3 linked regions of the Homo sapiens genome follow. The protein of the gene in region 1 purifies or fractionates together with the protein of each later gene. This does not show direct contact. Each region holds a gene or a part of one and is shown on either strand. Other genes may lie near its edges.

The links.
Region 2: the proteins of ARHGEF26 (region 1) and CPS1 purify together in Homo sapiens (affinity purification with mass spectrometry; 3 studies listed by BioGRID and IntAct, with this or other methods). This does not show direct contact.
Region 3: the proteins of ARHGEF26 (region 1) and CPT2 purify together in Homo sapiens (affinity purification with mass spectrometry; 2 studies listed by BioGRID and IntAct, with this or other methods). This does not show direct contact.

Annotation. Positions count from the first base shown.
Region 1 is NC_000003.12:154,117,147-154,124,389, reverse strand, and holds the start of ARHGEF26 (rho guanine nucleotide exchange factor 26), read right to left. Parts: upstream 3,001-7,243; 5' UTR 2,871-3,000; intron 2,449-2,870; 5' UTR 2,398-2,448; coding exon 1,315-2,397; intron 1-1,314. UniProt on the Homo sapiens protein: Activates RhoG GTPase by promoting the exchange of GDP by GTP. Required for the formation of membrane ruffles during macropinocytosis. Required for the formation of cup-like structures during trans-endothelial migration of leukocytes.
Region 2 is NC_000002.12:210,587,599-210,594,598, forward strand, and holds part of CPS1 (carbamoyl-phosphate synthase [ammonia], mitochondrial isoform b precursor), read left to right. Parts: intron 1-459; coding exon 460-549; intron 550-2,507; coding exon 2,508-2,636; intron 2,637-3,201; coding exon 3,202-3,308; intron 3,309-4,232; coding exon 4,233-4,371; intron 4,372-5,280; coding exon 5,281-5,358; intron 5,359-5,756; exon of another isoform or gene 5,757-6,076; intron 6,077-6,909; coding exon 6,910-7,000. UniProt on the Homo sapiens protein: Involved in the urea cycle of ureotelic animals where the enzyme plays an important role in removing excess ammonia from the cell.
Region 3 is NC_000001.11:53,199,824-53,206,823, reverse strand, and holds part of CPT2 (carnitine O-palmitoyltransferase 2, mitochondrial isoform 1 precursor), read right to left. Parts: intron 6,106-7,000; coding exon 6,025-6,105; intron 4,502-6,024; coding exon 4,395-4,501; intron 1-4,394. UniProt on the Homo sapiens protein: Involved in the intramitochondrial synthesis of acylcarnitines from accumulated acyl-CoA metabolites.

The sequences.
Region 1 (7,243 bases):
AAAAAAAAAAAAAAAAAGGAAAAGCAAACTATGTATGAATGAGCCAAATAGAAAATACAGCTATTTTAAGTAAAAATACTTTTTTTTAGTCATTACATTAATTAGATTTCCAAGAGCGCACAGAAGCTGAGCCCTGGAGGAGTTCACTCATTTGATCACTACAATTCACTGAAACAATGAAATAAAATGTACAAGATCCCCCACACCCTGTCAAAACAGATTGAGAATCCTCAAATAACTAGCAGGTCAGCTCATTTTACAACTCGTGATTCACCATCACTGTTAAATTGAACTTTGCTATACTTGCAGAGTTGGAAAAAACACATAAAATGTTATGTAATTTATTTTCTTTAAGACCACGGGCTCTAAAATAAAACAGGCTTGCTTGTGTTTTGCATATGTGCCATTTATATAGACTGGTTCCAGTGCTCTGATTAACCAAGAAAAAATGTGGCTGCCAAAAAGAATCTGCCTTATTGCTGAAACCTGTGTTGTTTCTGTGGAAGGAAGCACACACTCCAAAATACCCCTCTTCAGTTTTCCCTGTTTCTTTATGTCATATTTGACAATATTTTAATAAGTGCAGCTAATGGGACAATATAGGGGAGCAATACCACACAGTGTCCACCCTAACCTTAAGTTTTCAGCTGCCAATCTGTTACATGCACTCAAGGATGAATGGGCATACAACGGGAATAAAACACAACCAAAGGCCACGGTGACAAAAACAAGCAACAAAAAAGATGACAAAATATTTATGTCTTTTGTGATCCTGGCAACTGATTTTCAAATTCACATTCTACCTGAATGACATCAAGTGCGTAGTAACCACTCAAAATTCAGTAAGTAAAAGCAAAAAATAATCAACAGGCTCAAACAGGAATCAGTATTTTTCTGAATCAGCTGTGATAACAGCTATCATTGACTGAAACCTCTAAGCAAACTCCAGACAACTTGACTGCAGAGTGCGGTTCTGAACATGCTCCTCCCCCTTTCAGCTATCTCTTTTAAAAGTGGTAAAGACTCACTCAGCCAATAATCTGCCATATTTCACTCTTGTCCCCCCCAATTCTGCCTGAGCTTAGAAATTTAAAAGTGATGAATTTCACTTCTTCCCACAAAGTTGCACTAAACTCGGCTGTGCCTGCCAGCATCAAAGTGGCCAAGAGCTGGATGTACACTAGCAATCAAGAGCAAAACACAGAATTAAAACGGAATGACTTCTTCGGGTTTCCTCTACGCTCCTCCTCCCCACTCCCAACACATTTACTTTCCGCTTAGTGAATGGCGTGCCACACTCCTGCCCACTTTTACCTTTATCCTTCCCAGACTGGAAAACTTCTCCTTGTCTTCCATCACCACTTTCAGAACAGGCTGGGACATTCTGTTCTTCTTCTTCGAGCTGGTAGGACTGTCAAAATCAAAGCCACTGACCACTGCCCTGCGATAAGACGTGGACCGCAAGCCTCTCCGCAGAGACCCTGGGCTATCCACGTCGTTATCGACCTCACTCTCCTCCCCTGCGTGACCCAGGGGTCCTCCTAGGCCCTCCACCATGCTGCGCACCTTGAGGAGTCTCTTGTGGGGCTCCACATTTTGATTGTTGGATTTACTTATTTTAATTTCCGAGGCCAGACTCTTCGGAATGATCTGCTGCTTCCCCACTTTGAGGGCGGCGGGGCTGTTTGTACTCAAAACCACGGAAGGATTCTCGAGGAGCTCGTTCTCCTGGGAGGGCAGCCTTTGGAGGGGGAGTTTTTGTTCCGAAGAACTTTTCTGGGGCCCAGGAAAGAGCCCCCGTTCGGGGTCCTTTGCCTTCCGGCCGGACTGCGAACCTGACCCAGGAGAGTCGTTATTAGCGGCAAGGCCATTTGCAGTGGGCGAAGGCACCGGGCTGGCAGTCAACCCAGTAAGGTCCTCCTCGGGGGTGCAGGGGGCGGGCGCGTTAGGAGTCCGCGGGGGGCGCAGAACCGGCGGCGGCGGCGGCGCAGGCAAGGTCACCGCGCCATTTGCTGGGGATTTCGGGGAGCCGCCAGGCACCGCTTTGGGGAGCTTGGGTGACTTGGGCCGTCGAAGTCGAGGAGAGGCAGCCCTGTACTCCGGGGATGCCGTCCCACCATTGGCCACCGCTCTCCGCTGGGCGCCCAGAAGCAGGGGGCTCCTATGTACCGTCCTGCTGTCCGAGGCGGTGGGCACCTGGGCGGGAATCTGCGCTGCGAGGAGCGTCCCTCCGTCCTCCACCGGGAAATCCGTAATTAGTAACCCGTTGGGGCTCTGGTAGGACTGGGGCCTCGGCTTGCTCCGGCCCAGAACCTGGTGGGGCTGAGGAATCGACCGCCTCCGCCACAAAGGGGTTATGCTGTTGCTAGAAAAATCCACCTCGCTCTCGCCGTCCATAGCCGGGCCTCGAAGTCAGCGCCGGGAGGAGCAACACCGAGTTAGTCTTGCCTAAAGAGGAAAGAAGTTAGGAAACTGTGCCTCTGGACAACCGGGGACGCCTGGCCGACTCGCGTGCTCCCAGACCGGCGGTCCCCCTGCTGCTGCGCAGGACACGACTGCACCGCACTTACCCGCCCTTTCTCGGGCAAAAACTGCACCACTGCGGTGCGCGGTTCCCGGCAGAAATCTGGGCTGCCGCCCAGGCGGATTAATCCAATCACCTCCGCGTCCCTCCCGCGCCAAAAGACCACCCGCAGCAAATGAGCCCGCCACCCATTCACTGAGTGCAAGCCGAGGCACAAGAAACTTGGGACGAGTTCAGCTTTCTTGGGAAACTCGCCGCGGGACGCTCCCTTCTGTCGCCATCCAGCCTCCCGCCCTCATCATGGGTACCCTCGCGCTCCAGGTGCGCGGCTCCCACGCAAATTTACCTTCTGGGGCTTGCAATGTCCGGGGCCGAGGAGCACCCACTACCCCGTGGGTGGCCCGGGTCCGGGACCGAAGCGCAGCCGCGAGAGCTTAGGAGAGCGCTGCCGCCGACCGCGGCGCCGGCGCCGGCCCGCCCCCACGCCTGACTACGCCCCCACACTTGGCCCCGCCCCCGTTTCGGCCCCGCCCAGATCCGCCTCCATCGCAGCCAGAAGCAAGAAGCTGTCTTCCCGCCCCCGCGTGCCTACAATCAGCCCCAGTCTCCCTGGGAAACCGACGAGCGCACCTGAGCTGGGTTCTGAGCTCCAGCGTTTTGGGGCTAGAAGTTGCGGACTAGTAGCTGAGGCGGCACGGGAGTGTAGGCGCGCGGGGTCGTTGCCGGGGGCACAGAGTGAGAACAAGCAAGGGAGCCCTGCTGAATTGCAGCTTAGGAAGCCCTGAATCCTGGAGGTGCGTTGAAACCGAGAACGCGCGGCGTAGTAGACTTTGTGAGATGCGTGGGCAGTAGCGCAGAGTTCTAACGCAGAGTCATGCCCTCTCAGCATTCAGGTGGTCTTAAATCAGATGGGCTCGTCCCAGTGCTGAAAATGCATTATAATATAAACAGATAGATGGGCTTGTTTGTGCCTAGAGTCTTTCCGTAGGAAAGACTGGCAGCTCTGAAGAGGGAAACTGGGTGGCTAGGAAACCGGAGGGAGGGAGAGTTTTCATATAATTATTTTTGGTCCTTGTATGCTTTGCATCTTGAAACCTATCTGTGAAAAATAAGCTCAATTTACACTACAAAAAAAGTATTGGTTTCCAACAGTACATAGAATAAAACTCAAAATCCTTAGCATGGCTTACAAGACACTTCACTACTGCCCTACTTCTTCAGCCTAGTCTTTCCTCCATCACTTTCTTCATTATTTTTTTGGCCACACTCAAAGTTTGACAGCCTCATAACCTTCCCTTTCGTTCCTTCTTGACCCGACTTGTCACTGCGTCAGAAAGGCCTTCCCTGTCCCCTCCTTAATTATACCATTGCCCCGTTTATTTTCCCAGCCACTTGTTCTCTTCTATTTTTGCACTTATAAAATTTTGTATATATATATATTTATGTGTTTATGTTTATTGTCTTTTGTCTTTACACAGTAATTTGCATGAGGGCAGGGGTCATGTTTTTTTTTCTTCTCCGTATTTCCGGCACATGGTGGGCACTTAATATTTATTTAATGAGTGAGAGAATGAATGACAGGAATGAAGTGAAAACAGTGACCATTCCTTCCAAAGTGCTTGGTTGTCAAATAGTAGAAAGATGGCTGTGTCTTGGCCAGGCTCCTGCTGTGTGACAATAATGAGGCAAACTTGAGAAGACAAATAATTTTAGACCATAAGAGCTGTATAATTGATTCTATTAGCAAGACAAATGGGCCCTTCTCCAAGTTCTCTTTCTGCATTCATGCATTCAGCAGGGATGCAGTGAGCATCCACTGTGTGCAAGTTATGCTGCCTGTTTTTGCCCTAGATTGAATGCAATGGCCAAAAATATTAAGATGTGATCTCTGGGTGGTGAGATGAAGGATAGTATGTTTCATGCTGCTTTATATTTTTCTATACTTAACGAAATATCCTGGACAATGAAGATATATTACTTTGATCTGAGACATTTTCATAAACAAAGAAAAAAAGAAACGGCATCGAAAAATGTATAAGAAACTTTTTTTTTTTTAGACGGAGTTTTGCTCTTGTTGCCCAGGCTGGAGTCCAATGATGCGATCTCGGCTCACCGCAACCTCCGCCTTCAGGGTTCAAGCAATTCTCCTGCCTCAGCCTCCCGAGTAGCTGGGATTACAGGCATGTACCACCACGCGCGGCTAATTTTGTATTTTTAGTAGAGACAGGGTTTCTCCATGTTGGTCAGGGTGGTCTCGAACTCCCAATTTCAGGTGATCCACCCACCTTGGCCTCCCAAAGTGCTGGGAATTGCAGGTGTGAGCCACCGCTCCTGGCCTAAGAAAATTTTTAAGAAAGAAATTTTCCACATTGGGTGGAAGACATGGCTGATTACATACTCACATGTAGGTACATAGACTTTTTTTTTAATATAAGGTGTTTTCTATACCAACATGTATTGCTGTTATATTGGGGAAATATAATAAATTAATTTCAGAAGTGGTTACCGACTGACAAATGGAGTATTCACCTAATTCAAAATGCAACCTGTGACCTATGTTAAGAAGCTGTAAAAGGTGATGTGAGAAGGTGGCTTTTCTTGAAATTATGTTGCTTCTACAAACAAGTATAACCAATATTTGTGACGACTTCATAGGATCTTCTTACCTCATTTCCAACAGACAACAAAATACCTACCAAAACAACAACAAAACACCAAGCTCTGGTCCTTCACTGAGGGAAGTTTACAAACTCACAGACCTAGTGCCTATTCAATTTATTGTTATCTATTCAAATCTAACCTATCTTCAATTATATGTTCCACTCAAAAGAAAGGAAAAGAGCTGCTAATAAAACTATGACAATATGTTATGTCATATCGAATTTTTACTTTATACTTAGTGCTTTTAGACACTTATACATAGATTTGCTTAGTACTGTGTGTATGTAGGAAAGGAAAATATAAGCAAAATGAATTTACCAAAGTCCCGAACATTGAGCCTGATTCTTCTGAATACCTTTTCATGAAAAGCATTCATGTGTGTTTTTCCACACAATATTGTTGATAGTGCACCATTTCTTAAAAGGATGTTCCAATCTTGTTTCTGGGATTTGCCTCCTAGACAATGACACTCATTCTGCAGTTGTGATGCTGGCACTATCCCATTTGACTAAACACATAGTTTTCTTGTTCAACTGAATTGTATGTCACTACAAGCTATGCAGCTTCTCTATTAATGGCCAGGAGAAAGTTTCTCACAAATGGTAGTTTCATGCCTTAACCATAGTCCTGCATGATACATGAATTGGTTATATCAACCTCTCTTTGCTTTAGAATTTCTTTCACCTAATCTGTCATATCTGGTAATTTCTCCTGCCTTCAACTATGTTTCTTGGCATATGGCTTTGACACAACAGGACTAAATTTCATAGAATTTAGTAGAAATGATAACAATTCATTTATGCCCATGTTCAAAAATAGGCAATGCCAACTATATCATCACTATCACCTGGCCACTGGATGTTTATTTGATAGTAAGACACATCCCAGTTTCAAAGAAATTAAAATGTGGTACCAAATTATTCTTAAAATTGAAGAAATACAGTATGTCAAACTATTTGTAATGATATTTTCCGCTGGTATATTCCAATGGTATATTGAACTATTAGAATATTCAATGGTACAACGCAAGATATATATGGCTACATTTACTAAACAAATTCACATTGGTCACAAATTTTGTGTCCCAAGCACAATAATTTGGCTAATTTTTAAATGCAAATTGTTAGCTAGTCTTATTACAATATATGTCCAATTTTCCAGTATTTCCCATCCCGTGTACCTTTTGTTTATTTATACATTCAACAACTATTTATTGGGTGCATTCAAGTGCCAAGCATTAAGACAAACATTCCTGAACCTTACAGTTTGGCTCATGAAACATGACTGAAACATTAAAATAAAAGACACCCAAACTGTGTAAGATGCATAGTAAGCTCTCTGTTCTATGGAAACCTTTGTGAAGGAGTCTGGATAAAACTGGCCCAGAAGGGTAGATAAAGTATTGCAAGGTGGAGAAGCGGACAATGATGTCACAGAAAGATTTCCCAGGATAAGCAAAAACATGGAGGGATGGCTGGAGAACTGATATTCATTAAGTGCCAACTGTATTTTAAGCTTTGTTGTTTGTTACACATAACTTAATCTCACATTAGTTCTGAGCCCACTTAAATATGAAGCTGAAGCCCAAAAAGCTCTTCTCATACTGTTGATAATTGGTTGAGTCAGAATCCTAAACTTTTTCTTTACAATACTCCAGAGCCCATGCATCAAAACATACAAGAAACTAAGCTCACCAAAACACAGTTTGCTTTTAGAAGTTGTGGGATGTTAATTTGGCTGAATATGGTGAGAATAGAATGTGGTATGCAACAGAGACTGAGGGATTGAGATTTTACCTGAATGACAACTAACTACTCTGATATGATTTGGCAGTTTGGCTCTGTGTCCCCATCCAAATCTCATCTCAAATTGTAATCCCCATGTGTTCATGGAGGGAGGTGATTGGGTCATGGGGGCAGTTTCCTCCATGCTGTTCTCATGATAGTGAGTGAGTTCTCATGAGATCTGATGGTTTTATAAGCGTCTAGCATTTCCCCTGCTTGCACTTCTCTCTCTTGCCACCATGTGAAGAAGGTTCTTGCCTCCTCTTCACTTTCT
Region 2 (7,000 bases), on another chromosome or scaffold:
AGCCTTATGTACAGTAATTCAGCTTTACCCCATTTGATCTTTACTGCAAGTTGAGGATCAAGTGGTATTTAAAGCATGATGTATCTATTGCCACATCTGTCTAGTGCTGAATCAGGCAATAATGCTTAAACATTTCATTGCTACCAGTTGTTAATGAGGCAAAACATGAGAAAGATGGTTAACTATGCATGCAACCAGTTTCTTAGAGATCATTGTTATTACTATAATCAACCGTTTATATAAAACAGCAAAGTCTTTTTTTCTCATAAAAAAGATACAGTCTGTGGCACTTGTTGTGCCTTTCTTACAAACTGTTTGTTAACTGCCAGTCACTCCCTAGTAGTTAACAATCAATCTGTTACCAATCTAAGTTCAAAACATTGTCAGATGTGTTTATGATTTTGGTCTGTTGCCCATAGCTGGGACTTCCCTCTCATTCTCTGGTTTTTAAAATGGCAGGATGTCAAAGTGTACGGCAAAGGAAACCCCACAAAAGTGGTAGCTGTAGACTGTGGGATTAAAAACAATGTAATCCGCCTGCTAGTAAAGGTAAGTAATTTGTTCATTTCAAAGGTGAGGGTTTGTCATATTGACCATTAGTGTTCAGCTAATTTCCTCTGTCACAGAGAAACTTATGCATTCTTTCAGAATGTCAGGGGTCTACATTCTTCTTGTTGCTTTTGATTTACAAAATAACACATTTATCCCTGTTCAAATTAAAAATATAGACTGCTATGTTTTTTCTTTAAAAAAAAAACCTCAAGGGCCACTAAAACATGGAAGAAAATGATGACTGTTCTTGTCATTAATTGACTGACAGTCTGAGATGCATCATGTTCACTTTCTTTGTGGTATAGAGATGACCAAAAAGCTAGAGTCTGTCTGATAGCATCTCCTTTGGGCTTACATTTATTTTGTACCACACGTTTGTAGGAATCATGCCCTGACAGAGTACGAACTTTCACATTGTTTTTATATCAACTCTTAGACAACCAGTTAAAATTAAACCTTAAAAATTCTCAAGGAGAACTTAACCATCATAATAATGTTTCTTAAATAAAGTTTTGTTAGGATTTTTCCTTCTCCTCACTCCTCTCTCAGTCTGTCTCTGTCTACACATCTCCCCTCCATACACATACACACACATACACACATATTTGCATAACACCAAATTAGCATGCGTATTGGGAGACTCTTCATCGTACCTCCTTATTAGAGAATACCAGCAATATTCAAATCATGATTTCAAATTCTTGTCAATTTTATTAACAAACATTTGCATGGATAGCATGCATGGTAGCAGATGCTGTGGATGGCCTGTGTATATCTCAATCTCAAGTTACCATTTTAATTCATGTTGCCCATCTTCCAATTGCAAATATCTATATCTCTTTGCCTGATGGCTGGAGCCTACTGGCAGGCAGTAAATGGCATAGAATTAATGATCTCTGGAGTAGCCCCCAACCAAAGCACAGAAAAAGCCAGTGTTTAACCACCCTGGCTCCTTTGTCCCATGGATAGGCAGTCTCTAAGGTAACTATTCCACACGGGCTCTCAGAGTTCCCTACTGGGCTTAAACTTCACTTATCCCTAGTGGTAACTACTTGCTAATGCATAATTTATTGGGGTGTTTCATGATGTCACTTCCTCTCTGTTTAGTATGGAAGTACCTTCCAAATAAGCTTTTGTTCTCTTAAATCCTTGTTTCAGGAAATGCTTCATGGGAAACCCTCAAAGACACCTTCCTATGTGCTTTTATATTAAAAGAAATTTCTAAGTTTTCCATTCGAATATAAATCTTACAGAAAATGAGAAAACCCTAGGAAAGAAGGCTGATTAAAATTTGATAAGACTAAAAGGCAAGACTGAAAAAGGTCTGACGTGGGCCAACTTAACATTTTCAGAAAATGGATTTATATCTTTTTGCAACTGGTCGTGTGAAGGTAACCTACTCTCCTGTCAGTCCAGTCATGGCATTTGTAGGCACTGAAACTTCTCTTGAGTGCAGGAGAGTGCATTATCCATTTTTTCAGGATCAAAACTTTTAATGGTGTTTATTTTTATTTTTATTTTTATTTTGAGACAGGGTCTTACTTTGTTGTCCAGCCTAGAGTGCAATGGTGTGATCTTGGCTCGCTGGAACCTGTGACTCCTGGACTCGGGTGATCCTCCCACCTCAGTTTTCTGGGTAGCTGGGACCATACCTGGCTAATTTTTGTTTTATCTTTTTTGGTAGAGATAGGGTTTTGCCCTGTTTCCCAGGCTAGTCTTGACTTCCTGGGCTCAAGCAATTCCCCCCTATCTTGAGCTTCCCTATGTGCTAGGATCACCGGCATGAGCCACCAAGCCCGGCCCCAAAGAAATTTTTGCTCAGCATTATTTATTTTAAATGTTTACAAATTTTTCCTTCCCTTTAAGGAATGGTTAGTCAAGAGAAAGTCTAGCAAAATTATACTTTGGCAAAGAAACATGTTATTAAATTCATCATTCTTGTGTCTCTTTTCCAGCGAGGAGCTGAAGTGCACTTAGTTCCCTGGAACCATGATTTCACCAAGATGGAGTATGATGGGATTTTGATCGCGGGAGGACCGGGGAACCCAGCTCTTGCAGAACCACTAATTCAGAATGTCAGAAAGGTGCAATGAACCTTGAATTCATGTGTATCTGTGTGGGAGGTGGGGGCTTCCGCTCTATACCCTCAAAGGGCTGTGATACATTTTATTTATTCAGGCATTTTTCAATGCTGGTATTTGTGACTTCTGAGGCAGTGTCAGTAGAGATATTCTGTAGGGGAACCAATGAGGAGAGAATATCAGAGAAAATAGGGTTTTTCTTCAGGCAAAGTAACTTGGGGATCATGTCCTTGAGTTAAAAGAACTGGAGTCCAATGGCCAAATGTATTTTGCTTTACAGTTTTAAACCGACAACTCATGGTTCCTTATCATGACCTTGGGACCCATAAGACCTGCAGGTCTCTAAAGAAATATTAAATTAGATTTAGTTTAGTTTGAATGTAAAGTACATCTTAATGAATTATAATGCTACAAATTTGTCAATTATGTCCTTTTTTATATTCTTCTTTAATTCAGTTACTATTCTCTTTACCTTCTTAAGAAAAAAGGATACCTCATTTTTGTTCATTCAGAAGCAACATTTTTTGGAACTGTACTAATTGGTTAATAAAAATTCTCCCTGATTTAGATTTTGGAGAGTGATCGCAAGGAGCCATTGTTTGGAATCAGTACAGGAAACTTAATAACAGGATTGGCTGCTGGTGCCAAAACCTACAAGATGTCCATGGCCAACAGGTGAGGTATTTTCACTTTTGCTTACAGTAAACCAGCTCTGACATACTAACTAAATACAAAGAACTCAGAGCACTTACCTGCCATTTCTTTAGAGTAAATAAATGCACATGTACCCTAAAACTTAAAGTATAATAAAAATAAATAAATAAATAAATAAATAAATAAAATAAAAAATAAAATAAATAACCATACCTTACGTGGTTGACAGTTGTTTGACTACCTGATACCACTTTTGTTGCATTTTTGGAAAGCAGCCTTCTCTAATGATAACCTTGCTATAATTTAAAGTTATTTTCCTTCCCTTGGCATAAATTGAGGTTATAATACTCAATCAAATGATATTCCAAGGGAAATTGTTCTGATTTTAAGCTTGATTTCAGAACATTGTAACATTTTAAGAAGGTAAGTGTGACTTAAGAGCCGAGGAACCTTTAGATCCTCTTGGTTTCTCTTTTTTGCCTCAAACAATATTAATTTATTAAACATCAGGCTTTTTCCCATGGCCCACCCTCTACATAAATTATAATTCAGGTCTGAGCAGTCATCTCTTTGTTATCTCCCTATAACTCTCGGGCTTTAAAATTATTGTAGTTCTCTTAAAGTAAGTCACTTATATTTCTTAGTTTCTGTTAAGCCGGTGAGCAACCCTTTTTGTTATGAGTGCAATGCCCCCCTTTCTAAAACCGATTATAGAATTTAATAGACCTGCGTATTTAACACACAACAAAGCTTCCTGAATTGATTTTTGTTGGGAAAATTACTGGGATTAACAATCTGTGACTTTTCTCACAGAGTGATTTTCACTAAGCAATTGAAATTTTGAATTTTAATAGGCTTTACTTGTTCACTACTTTATAAGGAATACATTTATATTATTCTCTTCACTTTTCCTTTTCCCTATTCTTTTTCTCCTTTTCTCTCCAGAGGGCAGAATCAGCCTGTTTTGAATATCACAAACAAACAGGCTTTCATTACTGCTCAGAATCATGGCTATGCCTTGGACAACACCCTCCCTGCTGGCTGGAAACCACTTTTTGTGAATGTCAACGATCAAACAAATGAGGTAAATGATGTCAATAAACCTGTTCAGTTGGTGATGAGAAACGCAGGGCTTTTAAAAATAATTGATACATAAGCATTGTATATATTTATGAGATACATGTGATATTTTGATACATGCATATCATATGTAATGATCAAATCACACTAGGATAACCATCACCTCATTTTTTATTTCTTTGTATTGAGAACATTTCAAATCTTCTCTTCTAGCTGTTTTGAAATATGCAATAAATTATTCACTCAGAATATTCACCCAGAGTTTTTAAATACACTATGATGCAAATACCTTTCTCCTGTTTGTTTGTGATTTTTTTGGGGTTGAGTGTTGAAAAACAGCTATAGGTTTTCTCCCATAGCCCTCTGTGTTTTAAAACGTCATTTCTCTCTCTTATTCTCTCATCAGTTGACTTGTTAAGATTCACTATTTGAGTTATTAATCAACAACTATCTCATATATTCAATGTTAGTGGGCTGTTGGTCCAAATCTGTTTGAGCCCCATCTGGGTGGGTCTCTGGGACTTACTTGGCACTGGTGTAGTGTTTGAGAAGACCCTTGGAAAAGTAATTTCGGACTTGGGGATAAGATGAGGACTTGAGTTTACTCTGAACAGAACCCAGAGGGGTCCCAAAGACTATAGACCAAATTTTTTATTTATTTATTTATTTTAAAGGAAAACACATTCAGTTGAGTCTTCATTGACCCATTTTCCATACTTAATCAAAAAGGTCAGATATGTAAGTCCTTAAGATATCGGACCATGTTACTTAATAGTACTGTTAGTTACAAAAATTTTGTTAAGCATCTAACTCAGTTTTTAAATTTGAGCTTTATTGTTCCCTGAATAATACATAGCCACACTTGACATTCATTGTTACAGAAGGAATTTCTTCCTGTTTCTTATTCCTTTAGGGGATTATGCATGAGAGCAAACCCTTCTTCGCTGTGCAGTTCCACCCAGAGGTCACCCCGGGGCCAATAGACACTGAGGTACGTCAAAAAGATGAGGCCTATTATGTATGCAAAAAAAAAATGTATTTGTGTGGAAATTCGAGAAACCAAAATAATCACCCCAGATGATCTTGAGCAGAACATTCTCAAGAAGAGTGCTTTGGTAACACACATTTTGTATTAAAATCTCCCCATGAATGTCACAGAGGAAATTTTTATCTTTTTTAAAATTTAAAGTGGGAAAGCCCTTAAGAAACCCGAAGCGATGGTATTTTTATTTAAACCCATTATCATTCTAATATATTTAGTTCTGAAATTTACAATTGTTGTACTATGCAAATGAATTCCCTTTTGCTCTCTCTCGTTCTCATGACTGAAATGAAATTTTAATCCCCCATCTGTGACTTCACAAAAATCCCTATGGCAACTGGTTGTGTAGCCACTAAGGGAGAATAAACAGCAGCAGGAGAAGGAGGGGAAGGGTGTTGGAGGGGAGAGAGGGCATGCATGCACATACATAGATGATTCAGACGGCTTCAGAAAAGAACCACAAGGAATGCTTAGAGGAGTTTTGTATTTAATCTAAATATTTTTACTTTTTTGTGTGTGAGCTCTTAGTTCATTGTTCAAACCCATCTTTCCAAATAAATTCTTCTGGTGATATCCAGAAAAATCTGAAGTCTATTGTGACTTCCCCACACCCAGGGGCCTCCAGTAGCAAATCTTCATTGTCAGAACTCTCAGAAAAGACTTCGAGGTAAAATGGGGAAGAGAATAAGAGCTTTCTTTCTGCAAGCTCTGCTCTACTCTCTCATGTCTGAATTGCCGTTTTAGATATTTATATTTTGTTCTTGTTTTAATATTATTAGGAAATATTGGTTCTTAATAGCCAAAATCAGTATTATATTACCAACCCATGATGAAACTCATAAATCAAATTTAGTTATGTGTATCATCTAACACATGCTAAGTAGTTTTTTAATTTAAAATTTAAATTAGCATATATTAGTACTTCGGATTAGGAACATTGCAATTAAGATGTAATAATATCCACTGTCACATAATTCTCCTTTTTTGTCTTTCCAATAATTGCAAAATGAATATTCTTTGTTGTAATTTGTCATATCTAGTGAAACAACAGAAGTAAATCCTTTGGCAAAGATTAAGAATAATCTTCAGAAACTGTTTTTTAGAGCCGATAGAAATTTAAATTTAAATTAGTATTTCTAATTTTCTATATCATAAGTGATATAGCTTCAATTGTTATATCCACCTAGAATTTGATTTAGAAGAAACAAATGATATACAATTTACTAAAAACTTGGCATTCTCAGAAGGTATCTGATATGTTTACTGCTTGTTGGAAACTTCTTTTTTATAAGACTTGAAGTGAACAGAAGTGTTTATTTGATTAAATTCTCACACTAACAGATATTTAGTTATTGACAAAAAAGCAAAAAAAGCTGAAATGCTATAATAAAAATTATTTGTTGCTTATCTGAAGTTCAAATTTAACTGGGTATATTGTGTTTTATCTGGTGAACTTAGGAATTTTGAAGCTTCTAACTAGTTGGTTGTATTTTTTTCTAGTACCTGTTTGATTCCTTTTTCTCACTGATAAAGAAAGGAAAAGCTACCACCATTACATCAGTCTTACCGAAGCCAGCACTAGTTGCATCTC
Region 3 (7,000 bases), on another chromosome or scaffold:
ATTAACTCAAAATTACAAGCCAAAGTCTCATCTGAGTAAAGGCAAGTTCCTTCTGCCTATGAGTCTGTAAAATCAAAAACCAATTAGTTATTTTCAAGATACACTGGTGTTACAAGCATTGGGTAAATGCTCCCATTCCAAAAGGGAGAAATTGGCCAAAACAGAGGGGCTACAGGCCCCACGCAAGCCTGAAATCCAGCAGGGCAGCCATTAAATCTTAAAGCTCCAAAATAATCTTTGACTCCATGTCTCACATCCAGGGCATGCTGATGTAAGAAGTGGGCTCCCAAGGCCTTTGGTAGCCCTGCCCCTGTGGCTCTGCAGAGTACAGCCCCATGGTTGCTTTTACAGGCTGGCATTGAATGCCTGTGGCTTTTCCAGGCACATGGTGCAAACTGTCGGTGGATCTACCATTCTGGGGTCTGAAGGGCAGTGGCCCTCTTCTCACAGTTCCACTAGGCTCCCCATTGGGAACTCTGTGTGGGGGCTCTAACCCCATATTTCCCATCTGCATTGCCCTAGTAGAGGATCTCCATGAGGGCTTCACCCCTGCAGCAGACTTCTGCCTGGACATCCAGGTGTTTCCATATAGCCTCTGAAATGTAGGAGGAGGTTGTCTCTTTTTTTTTTTTTTTTTTTTTGAAATGGAGTCTTGCTCTGTCACCCAGACTGGAGTGCAGTGGTGCTATCTTGGCTCACTGCAAGCTCTGCCTCCTGGGTTCACGCTATTCTCCTGCCTCAGCCTCCCCAGCAGCTGGGACACAGGTGCACGCCACCACACCCGGCTAATTTTTTTTGTATTTTTAATACAGACAGGGTTTCACCATGTTAGCCAGGATGGTCTCGATCTCCTGACCTTGTGATCCACCCGCCTTGGCCTCCCAAAGTGCTGGGATTACAGGCGTGAGCCACCGCACCCGGCCGGACGAGGTTTTCAAACCTCAACTCTTGTTTTCTGCACACCTGCATGCCCAACACCATGGGGAAGCCTCCAATGCTTGGGGCTTGCACCCTCTGAAGCAATGGCCAGAGCTGTGCCTTGGCCCCTTTTAGCCATGGCTGGAGCTGGAGTGCCTGGGACACAGGGCACCATGTCCCGAGGCTGCACAGAACAGCAGGGCCCAGGAAACCATTTTTCCCTCTTAGGCCTCTGGGCCTATGCTGGGAGGGGCTACTGTAAAGATCTCTGAAATGCCCTCAAGACATTCTCCCCATTGTCTTGGCTATTAACATTTGGCTTCTCATTACTTATGCAAATTTCTGCAGCTTGTGGCTTGAATTTCTCCCCAGAAAATGGGTTTTTCTTTTCTACTGCATGGTCAGGCTGCAAATTGTCCAAACTTTTATGCTCTGCTTCCCTTTTAAACATAAGTCCCACTTTCACATCATCTCTCTGTGAATGCATATGACCATATGCTTTCAGAAAAAGCCATCTTGAATGCTTTGTTGCTTAGAAGTTTCTTCTGTCAGACACCCTAAATCACCCCTCTCAAGTTCAAAGTTCTGCAGATCTCTAGGACAGGGACAAAATGCCACCAGTCTCTCTGCTAAAGCACAGTAGAGTGACCTTTGCTCCAGTTCCCAATAAGTTCCTCATCTCCATCTGAGACCACCTCAGCCTGGACTTCATTGTCCATATCTCTATCAGCATTTTGGTCAAAACCATTCAACTCTCTAAGAAGTTCCAAACTGTCTGACATCTTCCTGTCTTCTTCTGACCCCTCCAAACTGTTCCAACCTCTGCCTATTAACCAGTTCCAAAGTTGTTTCCACATTTTCAGGTATCTTTGTAGCAATGCCCCCCTCCTGGTACCAGTTTTCTATATTAGTCCATTTTCACACTGCTATAAAGAACCACCTGAGACTGGGTAATTTATAAAGAAAAGAGGTCTAATTGACTGACAGTTCCTTGTGGCTGGGGAGGCCTCAGGAAACTTACAATCACAGCGCAAGGTGAAGGGGAAGCAAGGCACATCTTATGTGGCAGCAGGAGAGAAAGCGAACAAGTGGGGGAACTGCTGAACACTTTTTAACTATCAGAGCTCGTGAGAAACCACTAACTATCATGAGAACAGCATGGGGAAAACTGCCCCCATGATCCAATCACCTCCCTCCAGGTCCCTCCTTCAACACGTGGGGATTACAATTCAAGATGAGATTTGGGTGGGGACATAGAGCCAAACCATATCAATCACATTAGAGCAAAGCCTGTAACTGACAAGCCTCACCCCCATCCACATAGCTTCCAAGAGCTTTTTAATATCTCACTCATATCGAAGACAACACAGGATTATGAAGCATCTGAAGAAAGAAAAGGGCAAAGCAAACAGAAGAAAAGCAACTTGGAGGCAACAGACTATGAAGAGAGAAGAGATCTTAAAAAAAAATTATCAGAGATAAACTATTTTTAAAAAGAACACCATAAGAAGAAAAAAGAGCTTGTGGAAGTAAAAAATAGGAAAGCAGGAGTTTTAAAAACAGGTTGAGAGATTAAAATTAAGTAAGTCTCCCAAGAAAATGTAACAAAAAGAGTAAGAGATGAAAAATGTGAGAGAAAAGAAAATTAGAGGATGAGACCCAGAAATTCTACACCTGAATAATAATAGAGTTCCACAAAGAAAAAACAGAGAAAAAAAATGGAGAGGAAGAAAGCCAAAGAAATAAAACAAGGAAATATCCCAGACCTGAAGGATGAGATTCCAGATTCAAAGGACTCACAGAGTGGCCCAACACATACTAAAACACATTACCTGAAATTTCAAAACACTGGGGACAAAGAGAAAATTCTAAAAAGCTTCCAAAGGCAGAGAGAAGAAGTAGTCAAAAGATTAAGTCTCAGAATAACATTAGATTTACCAACAGCAACACTGGATGCTAAAAGACAATGGAGCAAAGCCTCCAAAATTCTGTGGGAAAATAATTTCAAACCCAGCCAAACAAATTATCAATGAAGTATAAGGGCCATTTTAAAATTTTTGCTTCCCATATTCTGTTTCCAGATAGTACAGGGAATATGTGCTCTGATTTAAAAAAAAAAAAAAAGAAAAAGAAAAAGCCAAGAAATAAGAAAATATGAAAGACAAGAAACACGAGTCCCAACATGAGAGAGAGATGACAGATGCCCCAGCTGATGGTGAAAGAGCACAGGAGAGCAGCTTCACAGTAGGCCAAGAGGTTCACAAATCCAGACTACAGCATGTCGCAAGTTCTGGAAGAAGTTTCGTCAAGAAGACCAAAAGGGATAGAATGTCCAATCTGCTTTCATGTATTGAGAGGAGATTCAGACAGCTTGGGAAGAGTCTGGGGGTAAATTAGTAAGCACATAGAAAACTAAACAAGAGAAAAGATGGAACAATTATTAACTTCAGAGAAAACAAAAAGTTTGTACTGGAAAGGAAAAACAATCCCAATATGCTACATGAGTCAGCTGACAATAGTGTTTCTATGATCATAATAGCATAAAACTAGATACTGAGTTACCCAAAATTACAAATCCCTATGCTGTGAAAATAAGGGGATAGGAAGTATGTGTATACACATCCCACATATGTGGTGGGATGTAAAGTACTGCTGAATTCTAATCTTCTACAGTGAGATGTCAATAGCTAATGACTAAAGCAAAAAAATCAAGATGCAGTAAGGTAAGTATCTAATTTAGAGATACGGGGGTATATAACAAAAGATTTAGGAGCTGAAAGTGAGAAGTGGGAAATAAGATGATGAGGAAGTTGCTGTTTTTCCTAACAAGCCTTATAGAACTGTCTGATTCTTTAAACTATATGCATGTATAACCTTGGTAAATATATAAACTAAATTAAAAGAAGTGCTGTAGGAACAGAGGTGGAAGCAACCAACTCTGAATGGAAAGGAAAAAGGACTGAGAAGGTTTCACAGAAAACCATCCTCCTTGGATCTTAAAAGAAGAATTTGCCAGGCAAAAAAATGGTAGTGGGAACAGCATGGATAAAGGCACAAAAGAATGAAAGACTAAGGGTTCAGGGAGCAATGAGGAGTTTAGCAGGAAGTATGTCAGGGTGGGTGGTGAGAGAAGAGGCTGGAGAGGACAGTTCTGTCTGACAGTGAAGGACCCAGAATGATATAGGACATAGGACTTAATCCTGCATCCTTTTCAGACAGGACCATTGATTAGGTTCTGCCTCAATCCCATCTACAGAGAAGGCTGGCCATCATTCTTGAGCATGGGCTCAAGTCAACACCTCAGTAGAGGAGGAACACACTCAGCCTTAATTTACCTCAGGAAGGGAGGATGAGACGTTACTTCATTTGCTGGTCTCACCAAAAATATCTCTGAGACCAAAACAGGAGAGAATATGCCTTACTTTTCATTATGGAGGGCTCTGGGAGAAATCATACCCACAGCCCAGCCTACCTACCCGAAATGTAGCTTGTATGTTTATTCTGTTTGTCCAGAGCAACCAGCTGCTCATGCAGTTCTTTTCCAATCCCATTTTCAAAACTCTTGCAAAATTGTTCTGTTTTCCTAAAACATTCAAGAAAAGACAAAATCAAACCATGGTAGGGAATACATGATTTTTAGGTTCATGGCGAGGAACTCATAATAGAGTTTTGGGTCCCCAACAGCATAGCCCTAAAACCTGGAATGAGATCAGAAAGTACCTCTAACCAGAACAGGAATCAATCTAAAATTGATAATCTAGACTACCTTCTTAAAATGAATGATTAGGAAAATCAATCAACATCTCACAAAATAATCCATATCCTAGGAGGCAGTTTGGCATGGAGAAAAGGACACAAGCTCTGGAGTCAACAGAAGTTAAGTCTGAATCCTAGCTCTGTTGCTTTTCAAACTGTGTGATCTTGGATAAGTTACTTGATCTGAGTCTCGGTTTCTTGATGTGTAAAATGGATAATAATACCACTTTACAAGATTAAAAATATTTATAAAGCTAAGGATTTAGAATATCCTAAAACATAATACTCAATAACTGGTAGCTATTACCATATCAAGAGAAACTTTAAATGACTAATAACAAATATTTGAAAACAGAGGCCTAGATTATGGATAATTCATCTGCTTCTCCATCACTGTCCAGTGAAGAGTTCTGTGATTCCAACAACAATGCCAGTTACCTGTACAGAAAAATTTCCATTATGGAAAAAGAGTACTACACTAGGCTATAAGAGCTTAATGCAATCCACTTTTTGACAATATTTGATATTATTTTCCAATTCCATGCTGTATTTGCTTCCTAGGACTGCTATAACAAAACACCACAAACTGGGTGGCTGAAAACAACAGAAATTTATTCTCTCACAGTTCTGGAAGCTTTAAGGACAAAATCCAGGTGTCAGTAGGACTATATCTTCTCTGAAGACTGGGGAAGAATCTGTTGCATGGCTTTCTCTTAGATTCTGGTGTTGCCAGCAATCCCTGGCATGCCTTGGCTTGTTGACACAGGCAGAGGACACAATCTCTGCCTGTGTCCTCACACCGCTGTCTCTGTGTCTTCTTACAAGGACACCAGTCATATTTAATTAAGGACCCACAATACTCCAGTAGGACCTCATCTTAACTAATTACATCTGCCACAACCCTAATTCCAAATAAGATCATATACTAAATTTCATGAAAAAGGGCATAAATTTTGGAGGCATGCTATCCAACTCAATAAACATGCTCACGATGCAGACTTCTGGTCTGCCGTATGGTCTCCTCAATGGACCTCCCTTCCAAGGGTACATGCTCTCTATAAATGACCAGGACCAGCGAGCCTCCCAGGTACACCTGCTAAGGGAAAGTACACATTTGGCATTCTGGCTTATAAACTATCTCCTGTTGAGCCTGTTTAGAGGAACTCTCGGGGCTTGGTCAGTCCTTCATGAATGAAAATCTATTTCCTGAACTTGCAGATGTACAACTAGGTTCTGGGTTCCTGGAGACCCAGCCACGTCACAGACATTCCCTGAAGCTTGGTCCACCACTACTTGCCAGCCTGTCTTGAACCACCCCAACTATGCTCACCCAAGGTTCTCAGTGTTTACCTGAACTGGCCATCATTCAAGAGAGGCTTCTGTGCACTGAGGTATCTCCTAATGGTGTCTTCAAGTTTGGGAATAGGCAGCCTGGGGAGAAAGCAGGGTCAGTGTAAGGCTGACAGTATATGGAAGAGGTTAATTAGCTTTACAAGCTAATGAACTGATTACTAGATCATTAATTTCCTCCCCCAAAACCAATAATCAGAAGCGACTGACAAATCAGAATCAATGGGTTTACTAATGCCAAGTATATCAATGGTAACTCTACTTTTAAGTAAAATAACAACTAAATCTTTAAGTAAAATACAAATATAATTATTTTAAATAACAATAATAGATTCAAAATGGGGAAGCAGAAGCTGCCCCAAGAATTCCTGTTTTCTGGTCACAATGATAACACCTGTGCTAACACTGTATTGGCCCTGATTTAATTCTACCCTTAGTTTGAACAACTGCATTTTTCTCCCCTAGGATAAAATGAAAAGGTTCTATTTTTTAAATTTTCTTCTGCATTTTACAACAAATAATTATATAAGAGTGAAACACAGATCTGTCCAAGGGCCAGCCATATATGGGGGCTACAGTCACTAAAAGGTAGGAATCGACCAGTGAGCCATGCCCAGATACCAGGAACGCCATTAGGAAGAACCAAATAGTCCCTGTGCTTAAATAACAGGAACAGCAATTTGCCTACTTATCATTCTGTCTACTAGTGATTCCCAAAGATGGCTATGGTGATGAAGTTACTGGCTTATTGTGAAATGAAAACACATGGACAGTAAAGTGAGGTGTATTTTCTCTTTCAATTCATTGGTTTTATTGAAGGAAATATCCCCTAATAGCAAAACAATCAGAGTTTGTTAGGCTGCCTCTACCAACTCAAAATTAACACTGATATGCAAAATACTGAAATGTATCAGTCATTTAGGAAAACTGAAACATGATACATAAAGCAGTTTAAAAGCCTAATATAAGATATACT